Homo sapiens: one gene and its partners. The protein of the gene in region 1 purifies or fractionates together with the protein of each later gene. This does not show direct contact. Each region holds a gene or a part of one and is shown in the gene's direction. Other genes may lie near its edges.

Region 1 (3,500 bases):
AGTGCCAAAGTGGACTCCATAACTGTCAAATGAAGGCTGGGTATGATCTTCTCACTTTGGCACATAAGATATCAGTGCCATCCTTTTCATGGCTGTGAAGGCTCGATTGTATGGCTGTGCCTTGATGTATTCAACCAGCACCTGCTGGGGGCTTCTTCAGGTGGTGCTACAGTTGATATCCTCGACCATCCATGCCTTTTTTTTTTTTTTAACTTTTTTTGAGACAGGGTCTCACTCTGTCGCCCAGGCTGAAGTGCAGTGGTACAATCATAGCTCACTACAGCCTGACTTCTTAGGCTCAATCGATCCTTCCACCTCAACCTCCTGAGTAGCTGAGACTATAGGTGTGTACTACCATGCCCAGCTAATTTTTGTATTTTTTGTAGAGACGGAGTCTCTGGGCACCATGTTTCCCAGGCTGGTCTCCAACTCCTGGGCTCAAGCGATCTGCCTGCCTTAGCCTCCCAAATGCTGGGATTACAGGCATGAGCCACTGTGCCCAGCCAGTCCATCTTTTAATAAGCCTGATTTTAAGTCCAGTATTTTCTTGGGACCATGGAGAAATAAGTATTCATAAATAATTTACTGTTTATGTTAACCAAACCTTACAGGATAGTCATATTGTCACCGATTAATAATTTTGCTTTGATTTTAAAAAGTGATTTTTTTTTTTTAAGACGGAGTCTTGCTCTGTCTCCAGGCTGGAGTACAGTGGCGTGATCTTGGCTCACTGCAACCCCCGCATCCCGGGTTCAAGCAATTCTGCCTCAGCCTCCTGAGTAGCTGGGACTACAGACGTGCACCACCAAGCTCAGCTAATTTTTGTATTTTTAGTAGAGACAGGGTTTCACCATGTTGGCCAGGACGGTCTCGATCTCTTGACCTCGCGATCTACCCGCCTCGGCCTCCCAAAGTGCTGGGATTACAGGCATGAGCCACCGTGCCCGGCCAAAAAAGTGATATTTTAATTGCATTTTTAAAATTCTCATTTTTTCCTGAAGTGGATTATGCCTTTAAGGCTGTAGATTTGTGAATTCTGGAAAGTTCAGCAGCTGCAGGGCCCTCTTCTAGTGGCAGACAATGGACCCCATCATCAGCTCCTCTCAGATGGCCATATCAAAGAGGCTGTGCTGTCGAATGCGTCTCTGCTTGAATTAGCATGAATTAACTATTGGCTTTATTCATTATTGTTATTTTACTCGGAGTTGGGGAATGATGGCTAAAAGTTTGTGAATCTATGACTTAAACTCCAAGGATTGGTATAGTAGACCTTTCTGAGATAGTTTCTGAAAAACAGGTTACATATCTCTGCTGCTTTGTGGAAAAGAGGTCAAAGTACTGGTCTGTGATGGGTCCCATTTGAGTGGCTTGTTCTGAAGTTGACCTTTCTGATCACTGATTAGTAGTGAAAAAACTTCCCCTGTGAGGTACAGGCTCTCGTACTTCATTAAAAGAGACTCTCTCTGGACTGAAAAGCAAATAAACTCCCTCTCTGGAACTCCGGATGAAAGCACATCTCTCCTGTTGGAGTATAGTATTGTGTGTGAGAGTGTGTGTGTGTGTGTGTGTGTGTGTGTGTGTGTGCGTGTAGTATTTTTACCACCCACTTTGATAAAGCGTATCTCCACAGCACACAGCACCTTGGCCTGAATCAGCCAAGGACCTATACCTGGGCATTTGGGGGATGCAGTGGCTTGCCTTCTTTTTTCTTTTTGGTAGAGACATGGTCTCACTATGTTGTCCAGGCTGGTCTCAAACTCTTGGCCTCAAGCAATTCTCCTGCCTCAACCTCCCAATGTGCTGGGATTACAAGCATAGTTCTAGGGTACTGGCCAAGTTCTAGGACCTCCTCCCACACCTGCAGAATCAGGAACTCTGGTGGTGAGGGCCCCATATGCATTTTTAAGTCATCATTATATTTTGAGACAGGGTGTTGCTCGGTTGCCCAGGCTGGAGTGCAGTGGCATGATCATAGCTCACCATAGCCTTGAACTCCTGGGCTCCAGCCTTCTTCCTCTCTCAGCCTCCCAAGTCGCTGGGACAACAGGTGTATATCACGGCTAATTTTTTAATTTTTTGTAGAGACACGGTCTCATGATATTGCCCAGGCTGATCTGAAACTCTTAGGCTCAAGCGATCCTCCCGCTTCAACCTCCCGAGTAGCTAGGACTGCAGGTGTGTGCCACCAACCCTGGGTAATTTTTACTGGGTTTTGTAGAGACGGGGGTCTACTAGCTCTGTTGTCCAGGCTGATCTCGAACTCCTGGCCTCAAGCAATCCTCCCACCACTTCAGCCTCTCAAAGCACTGGGATTCTGCTTTCTGACGACCCCTCATGTGCAGAATCTGGGTGGTGGCCTCTGAGGTTTTCTAACCCAGCAGACATGGCTTGAGGATGTCAAAAGTTTGGTTCCCTCAACAGCTATATACTTTGAGTGCCTGCTTGGTGCTAGGCGGAAACCAGAGGCTAGGGGATTTTGTTCTTGGCTGTACAAGCCTTTTGGAGGACTATGGCAGCTATTTCGTGTTTGCTGAGAATCTGTTTTCTTTTTGGAGGACTGAAGATAACTAAGTGATGTGCTGCTTTGAAATCAGAGAAGTGCAAGAAGCGCCAGGATCCAAAGAGCTCTAGAGATACAGAGAGTGGGAGTGAGGATATGTAAGAGTCTGGAAAATAGCAGAGGTGATCCAGGCTTTGGTTTCAGTTCCCATTTCATTTTGGAGGCCAGTCATTTGCTTTGAATGGGGTCTACTGCCCAAGGTTACTGGGTGCTGCATTTCCCAAGGGCAGTGGTGTGAGGTACTGAAGCTTAGGGGTCAGAAGTCCGGCTGAGTGTTACCTCACTCTTGAGACAAATTACTCAACTTCTCTGTGCTGCTTCCCTTGTCTGTGAAATAAATCCAAGCTCTGCAGGGCAAGGCCCATGTGTGTTCATTCTCCAGTGTGTCCCCAGCACTCCTCACAGGGCCTGTCACAGAGTTAGCATCCAATGTCTAATTACCCAGGTCACATTCTTGTATCTCACATTGAGGACTTGGGCTGAACAGGGTTTTTATGTTTTGATCACAAAGTATCGCTTAACTAACTAATTATTGTCTTCAAAAAACATACATCTCCTGAGTTGTTTCTTACCTTTCTGCTCAGGGTAAGGGGACAGGGACATTCCCATGGTCTCCAGGTAGCATTCGATGTTATGAAAACCTGGATTCCAGGAGCTCAGGTTCTTTCTGTGAGTTGATGTTCATGGCCGCTGTTTTGGGAGCAGCCTTGTCCAGGGCAAGGTCACCACTGCCCTCCTTTTCCTGTCTCCTCCCCAGGTACAATTTTGTGATGCTGGCCCTGTCCTCCTCATTCCTGGTGTTATCCTATCTCTTGACCCGTTGGTGTGGCAGCGTGGGCTTCATCTTGGCCAACTGCTTTAACATGGGCATTCGGATCACGCAGAGCCTTTGCTTCATCCACCGCTACTACCGAAGGAGCCCCCACAGGCCCCTGGCTGG
Region 2 (3,500 bases), on another chromosome or scaffold:
TGCTAAGCATGACAGAAATAATTCTCTGGAAAATGAAATGAGATTGCTCTTTATTAGTGTTTCCCAGAACTCCCATGTCTAGAATGATCTGGTTTTGGATTTAGCTCATGGAGCCATTTATTTGGAAGTCCCTGCTGTGTTGGAAGACTCAGCCTGTTTCTGGGTTTGATGGTAGACGTTCGTGCTTTATCCTAAAGAGACAAGATCACACTTGCCCGTGAGTGTGTGGCCAGCTGCTGGGATGAGAAGGACCTCCAGGCCCCATGCATTTTGAGTGTAGCAGGCACTCGGTCATCTGATATCTACCTGCATGTCTCACTTATGCAGTCCTCTGATTGAGAACAAAGTAACTTTTACTATGTGTGGGCAAGGCTTGGAATCAAGTCTGGTATATCTGATTTCAAGGAAAAAATACTAAAATCACTAGGAGTTTGAAAAGCAGTCACTCATAAAGAGATTGTCCTGTGGTTCTGAGGACCACACACAGCTTGGATGGATGAGGACCAGACACAGCTGATGTGGACAATTCCCCTGTAGCCAAGCTGGGTCTGATAATGGTTAGGCCTTTCTGTTCAATGCGGAGGACAGGTTCAAGGCCACTGCTGCCACCACCAGCAGGGAATCACCCTGGGCACATCAGAACCTGGGGGATGCAGGTGTCCTCTATGGGGACAGCAATAAAACTTGGATAGGAGGCCGGACGTGGTGGCTCACGCCTGTAATCCCAGCACTTTGGGAGGCTGAGGCAGGCGGATCACCTGAGGTCAGGAGTTTGAGCCCAGCCTGGCCAACATGTTGAAACTCAGTCTCTACTAAAAATACAAAAATTAACTAGGCGTGGTGGCGCATGCCTGTCGTCTCAGCTACTTGGGAGGCTGAGGCAAGAGAATCACTTGAACCTGGGAGGCAGAGGTTGCAGTGAGCCAAGATCGTGCCGCTGCACTCCAGCCTGGGTGACAGAGCGAGACTCCATCTCAAAAAAAAAAAAAAAAAAAAAATCTGACTTGACAACAAAAAATGACCAGGCAGACATTTATGTTTCTGACATAGAAAAATGTTCATAAAGCTAACTGAAACAAGCAGGATAGAGTATAATCCCTTTTTTTTGTAAATCAAAACACACATAAATATATTTATATATGTAAATAAACTTACAGGAGAAAATAACTGTGGTGATTATCTGAGTAATGGATGGGGTTTGGGGTAATTTTAACATTTTTCTTTTTGTTTATCTCACGGTTCCCTAATTCTTTCAATGACTGCGTCTTACTTCTGTCGGATGAAATCACACATAAGATTGCAGGTGCTGAGCTCCCAGGCAGGAGCTGTTTGTATTGGCCCACGTGTGAAGCCCACCACCAGCCAGAGATGGAGGCAAGATGAAGCAGTTGATAGAGAAAGGACTTTCATTTCTGGAGTGTCTCAGCAGCTTTGTGTGGAGGATAAGCCACGTGGGTCCAGACCGGATCCGGCAGGCGCCGGATATTAGCTGCTGGGGTGTGGGCCCCGGGGCTTCGTTTTATCTGCTCTCATCAACATTGTGGTGTCTACAGTTATTACTTTTTCTAACATATGACTGATATCAGCACTGATAAGGTCTCCTTTTCATAAATTTACAGGCGTTGCCTTCTTGCCAGCTAGTATCTCTTATCTCATTGGAACCAATATTTTTGGGATACTTGCACACAAAATGGGGAGGTAAGATGATATGAAAACAACACTCATTCTGTTACAATAATGTAGTTCTTTCAAAAAATTCTAAGTTGTTTCTGCCTTTGCTGTTACAAGTAATTGTTTTGATTTTCATTGAAAATTTGGACTAGAAAAAAATCAAATGATCATTTCTTGATGGTGCTTTTTCTTTTGGTAGGTGGCTTTGTGCTCTTCTGGGAATGATAATTGTTGGAGTCAGCATTTTATGTGTGAGTAAAAGATGGCATTTGACAAGTGGGAACAATCTGTGAATAAAACTTGCGCTTTGGGCAAGAATCACCAAGAAACATTTTACGTTTGAGTTTGTTGATGTTTTATTACAGCTTTCATTTTATTCTAATTTTTTATCATCTTAAAAATGTTTGGACAAGACTTTCCAAGGAGTGTATTTTCATTTTATGTCAGAAATTATTTAAAATGTTTTATTTCACAGTTTAACTTTTCCCCTGCATCATCTTAAGCTTGACAGTGTCTTAAACACTTCAGGACAACCAACCTGAAACAATAGCAAGATGTTTTTCTAGAATAAAATCTCTTCTACCAATGGCCAATATCCATCCCTCATGAGGCCTACTTGTTCTTGTCAAAACTTGAGGGTGGACTAGGCTGATCTTTCACATATGCCGGTGACAAGTTTTTCATGGTGGTCATAAAACTCGTTTCAAGCTTTGACTTTTAAAGATTTGGAGGGTCCGGTTCTTCACAAACCCCACCCTTCTTCCTCCTGTTTTCTTCAGAAGGGAACAGGCATACCACGCTCAGAGAAAACACAAGTTCAAGACTTTCCGAGATGATTTAGAGTTGGATCTCTTGTTATTTTAGCATAATGTTTATTTCCTCTTACAGATTCCATTTGCAAAAAACATTTATGGACTCATAGCTCCGAACTTTGGAGTTGGTTTTGCAATTGGTAAGTCACACGAACCTTGTGCCTACATTTAAAACCGCTTTTCCACTAGGAAGGGTTCTTCTTCCTCTGGTAGACTGTAGTTCCTCAACCTAAATTTCCAGAATCTTAGAAGGAGGCTGCAGGCAGCTTAGCTAAATTACAGCCTGTCGATTCTCCGTGTAAAGACACCTGCTTCTATGCACTAGTCATTTATTTCCTGAAAACCAGTATTTTTTAAAAGCTGATATTTACAGAAGGAAACTGATGCTCCACTGCTGGGGCTGGGCAAACAAAGGAATCCCTTGCACAGAGCTCATTTTTGTGGACTCCTCCCTATGAGCAGGTCTTCTCATGAGGCTGGGGGCAAAGGCTTCACATATGTATTTTGAAGAGGTTTTAGTACAGACAAAGCAGACTAATGTGTTGATGACCGCCTGTGCTGCAGGAATTCCCATGGGCAAGGAGATGGGCTTTTGTAATGTTAAGAATGATAATATGTTAGGAAAAATCTGTCACTATTTTGAGTGAATGGTATACTTTTGTCTCTTATTTATAATATACCAATTGATCATGATAAAAATAAGTGCTCAGTCCACCCCTGTAGAAGCAGGAACGCAACCTTTGAGTGGTACAGTGGCACAGCATGGCTTTCACTGAGGACAGATGGTAGAAGGCTGCTGAGGCTGGGGTAGAACTCAGTATGGTACTCTAGGTCCTTCTCAGGTGACCGTTTGCCTGTCCTCTGCCTTGCCTCCCCTTGTCCTCCACTGTCTGGTTGGCCCATCTTTTTAGGGAGGGTGCTAGTCCTCTGGCGGCTCCCCTTGCCATTCTGCAGGTCTGGCAGAGTTGCAGGTTGCTAACTGTACGGCCCCTGGCCTGCATCCTTTTGGTGCTTCCC
Region 3 (3,500 bases), on another chromosome or scaffold:
GTTGAGGCGGTGGGGGGGCATCACTTGATCCCGGGAGGTGGAGTTAGCGGGGAGCCAAGTTTGTGCCACTGCACTCCAGCCTGGGTGACAGAACGATACTCTTGTCTCAAAAAAAAAAAGTTTTAGCTGGGTACAGTGGCTCATGCCTGTAATATCAACACTTTGAGAGGCCGAAGTGGGTGGATTGCTTGGCCAGGGGTTCAAGACCAGCCTGGGAAACTTAGCAAAACCCTTTCTGTATAAAAAATACAAAACAAATTAGTTGGGCATGGTGGCATACACCTAAAGCCATCCTCCCACCTCAGCTTCCTGAGAGCTGCTTGATCGCTTGAGCCTGAGTTCAAGGCTGCAGTGAGCCGTGATGACACCACTGTCCTCTAGCCTGGGCGACAGAATAAGACCCTGTCTCAAAAAAAAAAAAAAGTTTCATGTTTGTGGTTTGCACAGATTATATTTCCTGTCTCCTTATAAATATAGCTAATGTCTGGAGCTTTGGCTGTCCTTTGGGAGAATGGAATCTTCCTTTAATTGTTTTCTCTCTGTTTTTATAGGAATGATGTATTTAAAATCCACTGGCTGATGGCGGCCCTTCCTTTCACCAAGTCTCTTTCCTTGGTGTTCCATGCAGTATGTATTAGCATTTTGAGGATCATTCATGAAATTACGTATAATGCCTGTGTGAGCAGGCAAAAGAAATTTGAAGAAAGGGGATAGATTGGTGGGAAACAAAGACAAAGAATACATTTCTCATAAAGCCTCCTCTTGTCTGGGAGGGCCTGGCCATGCGGGTAAATGATTACCACCTCCCCTCATATTAGACTTCAGACATCTTCTAATACTGCTTACAGACCTACAGTTTTTCTAGAACACTTATTATTGTTTTTATTTCTTTGTTTTTGGTTTGTTTTGTTTTTTTACCATTTCTAGAGATGAGAGTGCCACCTGCTGACTTGTTTCCACGACTTTTTTTTTTTTTTTTTTTTTTTTTTTTTTTTTTTTTTTTTTTTGAGACGGGGCCTCGCTCTGTTGCCCAGGCTGGAGTGCAGTGGCGTGATCTCTGTTTACTGCAAGCTCCTCCCCTCAGGTTCACGCCATTCTCCTGCCTGAGTCTCCCGAGTAGCTGGGACTACAGGCGCCCGCCACCACGCCCAGCTAATTTTTTTGTATTTTTAGTAGAGACGGGGTTTCACCGTGTTAGCCAGGATGGTCTCGATCTCCTGACCTCGTGATCCGCCCGCCTCAGCCTCCCAAAGTGCTGGGATTACAGGCATGAGCCACCACGCCCGGCCTCCACGACTTTTTTATGTTTCCAGATATTCCCTCATGTTCCTCTGTGATTTGAAGTTCAATTCAGTATTAGCATATTTATCTGAGAGAAAATTGATGCTATAAAGCTGGAGGCATGAGAATTGAGCCTCAGCTTTGTATATTTGGAACTTATGCAAATTAAAATGAACTTGCCCAAGGGGGTAAGATCACAACTTCTCCTGTCTGTGGGCCTCCAAGTGCCCGTGGAGCACACTTGCAAGGATGACAGTCTCTAGACATGTACTCTTTGCTGTACTTGAAAGTGGCCTCCTTGGAAAAGGCAATAATATATCCAGTGGCAGCGTCACCAAATGACAATGATTTGGATAATTTCCCAAATGGGTCCAAGTTAAAAGATTCTTTGTGGAGCCATGTAGATAATGAGTGATTCTGAAATGCAGTTGTTTGATTTCAGATTGACTACCACTACATCTCCTCCCAGGGCTTCCCTATCGAAGGCTGGGCTGTTGTGTACTACATAACTCACCTGTAAGTATGCAGGTCCATGTGAAATACACCATGAAATGACATACAAGACAAGGGGGGTGGGCAACAACCTGCCCCAAGTTAACCAGCCCTGCCCTCCTGTGGCAGCCTGTCTGGGCCCCTGCCATACCAGAGGAGTGTAGCTCATGGGTGGCTGTCCAGACTTGGGAAGTCGGGCTTAGTGGCATACTCCTGCCTCTCTGCGGCCATTGGCTGTCCAGGCTGTGGGGTGCAGAGCTAACTGTGTGCCCTGAAGGAAGTGGTGCTCATGTATGATGGATTTCCTAAATTTGGCTGCCCGTCTTTTGTAAGAAGCTTGTGAACTCATAGAATGAGCTATGCAATCTAACTGGCAGTGAGAGTCTAAAGAGACCTGCTGGTGTCTGTTCCTTGTTTTCTCTTCCAGTTTGAAAGGGGCGCTACTCTTCATCACCATTGCACTCATTGGCACTGGCTGGGCTTTCATTAAGCACATCCTTTCTGATAAAGACAAAAAGATCTTCATGATTGTCATTCCACTCCAGGTAAAAGAACCCTCATCCCATTTGTCACTTCCTTTCTTGGCGCTTAGCAGGGCTCAGCTCCAAGCCTGTATGGGAAGAGGGAGTCACCTCACCCTGAAACCCCAGCTTCTGCTAGTGGAGGTTGAAGACTGAGATTCTCTTTCTGAATTCTGAACAGACTTCAGGTCATTGCACTGGGAGATGCTTGGGCATCAGTCAGCCACTGGCCTTTGGGGGCCTAGATTTTGAGTAGAGAGCTGCTGACAGTGACAGGGAGACACACAGTAACACACAGTACTGTTTTCTCTTCTGCATCATTTGCTTCATAACTAAATGGTGCCCTTGGCAAGGAAGCTCAGAGATGTAGTGATTTTATTAACAAAGTATTTTAAAACCGTGAACTACACCAGTGAGTTTCCACAGGTAGAATATGGTAGTAGACGTGAGGGGCAAACATTTCCTAAATCCTTACCATGTTTGGGGCCGAGGGCCAAGGCCAGCCTTACAAGGCTGTGAGTCTTTTGCGGGAGGAGCCTTGTCTTACTGGAAGCAGAACTTGGATGTAAAGAACTTACAATGAACAGAGAGGTTTTAGCAGGGATGCACAGCTACCCTGCTCTGCTTGACCAGACAGCGTCTGTTTGACAGAGTTGTCCCTGTGAACTTTTCTCACATTTTGGAGCACAAAGTAAATGTGGAAGGTTGGGGGTGGAAGGGGACAACTCCTGAGGCACCCAGATCAGCCGTCCCAACTCTGGCAGAGTTTGCAGCAGAGCTCCTCTCGGAGTTCTAACAGACCTCATCCACCCTTACGTTCAATAATGAGGAACATGTGTTGACATCAAATGAATGGGACAGGCCAGTTGCTCTGTGTTTCCAAGGAGAGAATAAGCACTCAAGTTGGAAGGATCAAGGAGGGCTTTGTGACAGAGATAGGGCTGGCCTGGGTGTTGAAGGAAAGGAATGTGACAGAGGCAGTAAATACACATGACCCTGCTGTCTGCTAAGCAAAACATGCTGAGGGACTGTGCCGGTCTTTCGGCTGTCGAGCCACCGTGGTCACTTCTTCAGCCAGACTGAGTCCTACAGCCTGCCGAGGTCTCGGAGTTGTGAATGACGGAGACTGGGTTGTCACCCGGCTGCGTGTGCCTCTTCCCTTTAGTAGAGTCCCTCATCCCTCTAGAGTCTCCCCCCACCAGCCTG

What was found.
Region 2: the proteins of RFT1 (region 1) and SLC18A2 purify together in Homo sapiens (co-immunoprecipitation; one large-scale study listed by IntAct). This does not show direct contact.
Region 3: the proteins of RFT1 (region 1) and GPR107 purify together in Homo sapiens (co-immunoprecipitation; one large-scale study listed by IntAct). This does not show direct contact.

What each region holds. Positions count from the first base shown.
Region 1 is NC_000003.12:53,092,436-53,095,935, reverse strand, and holds part of RFT1 (man(5)GlcNAc(2)-PP-dolichol translocation protein RFT1), read left to right. Parts: intron 1-3,317; coding exon 3,318-3,500.
Region 2 is NC_000010.11:117,265,114-117,268,613, forward strand, and holds part of SLC18A2 (synaptic vesicular amine transporter), read left to right. Parts: intron 1-1,619; coding exon 1,620-1,698; intron 1,699-1,870; coding exon 1,871-1,922; intron 1,923-2,559; coding exon 2,560-2,623; intron 2,624-3,500. UniProt on the Homo sapiens protein: Electrogenic antiporter that exchanges one cationic monoamine with two intravesicular protons across the membrane of secretory and synaptic vesicles.
Region 3 is NC_000009.12:130,098,906-130,102,405, forward strand, and holds part of GPR107 (protein GPR107 isoform 3 precursor), read left to right. Parts: intron 1-551; coding exon 552-627; intron 628-1,723; coding exon 1,724-1,797; intron 1,798-2,200; coding exon 2,201-2,318; intron 2,319-3,500. UniProt on the Homo sapiens protein: Has been proposed to act as a receptor for neuronostatin, a peptide derived from the somatostatin/SST precursor.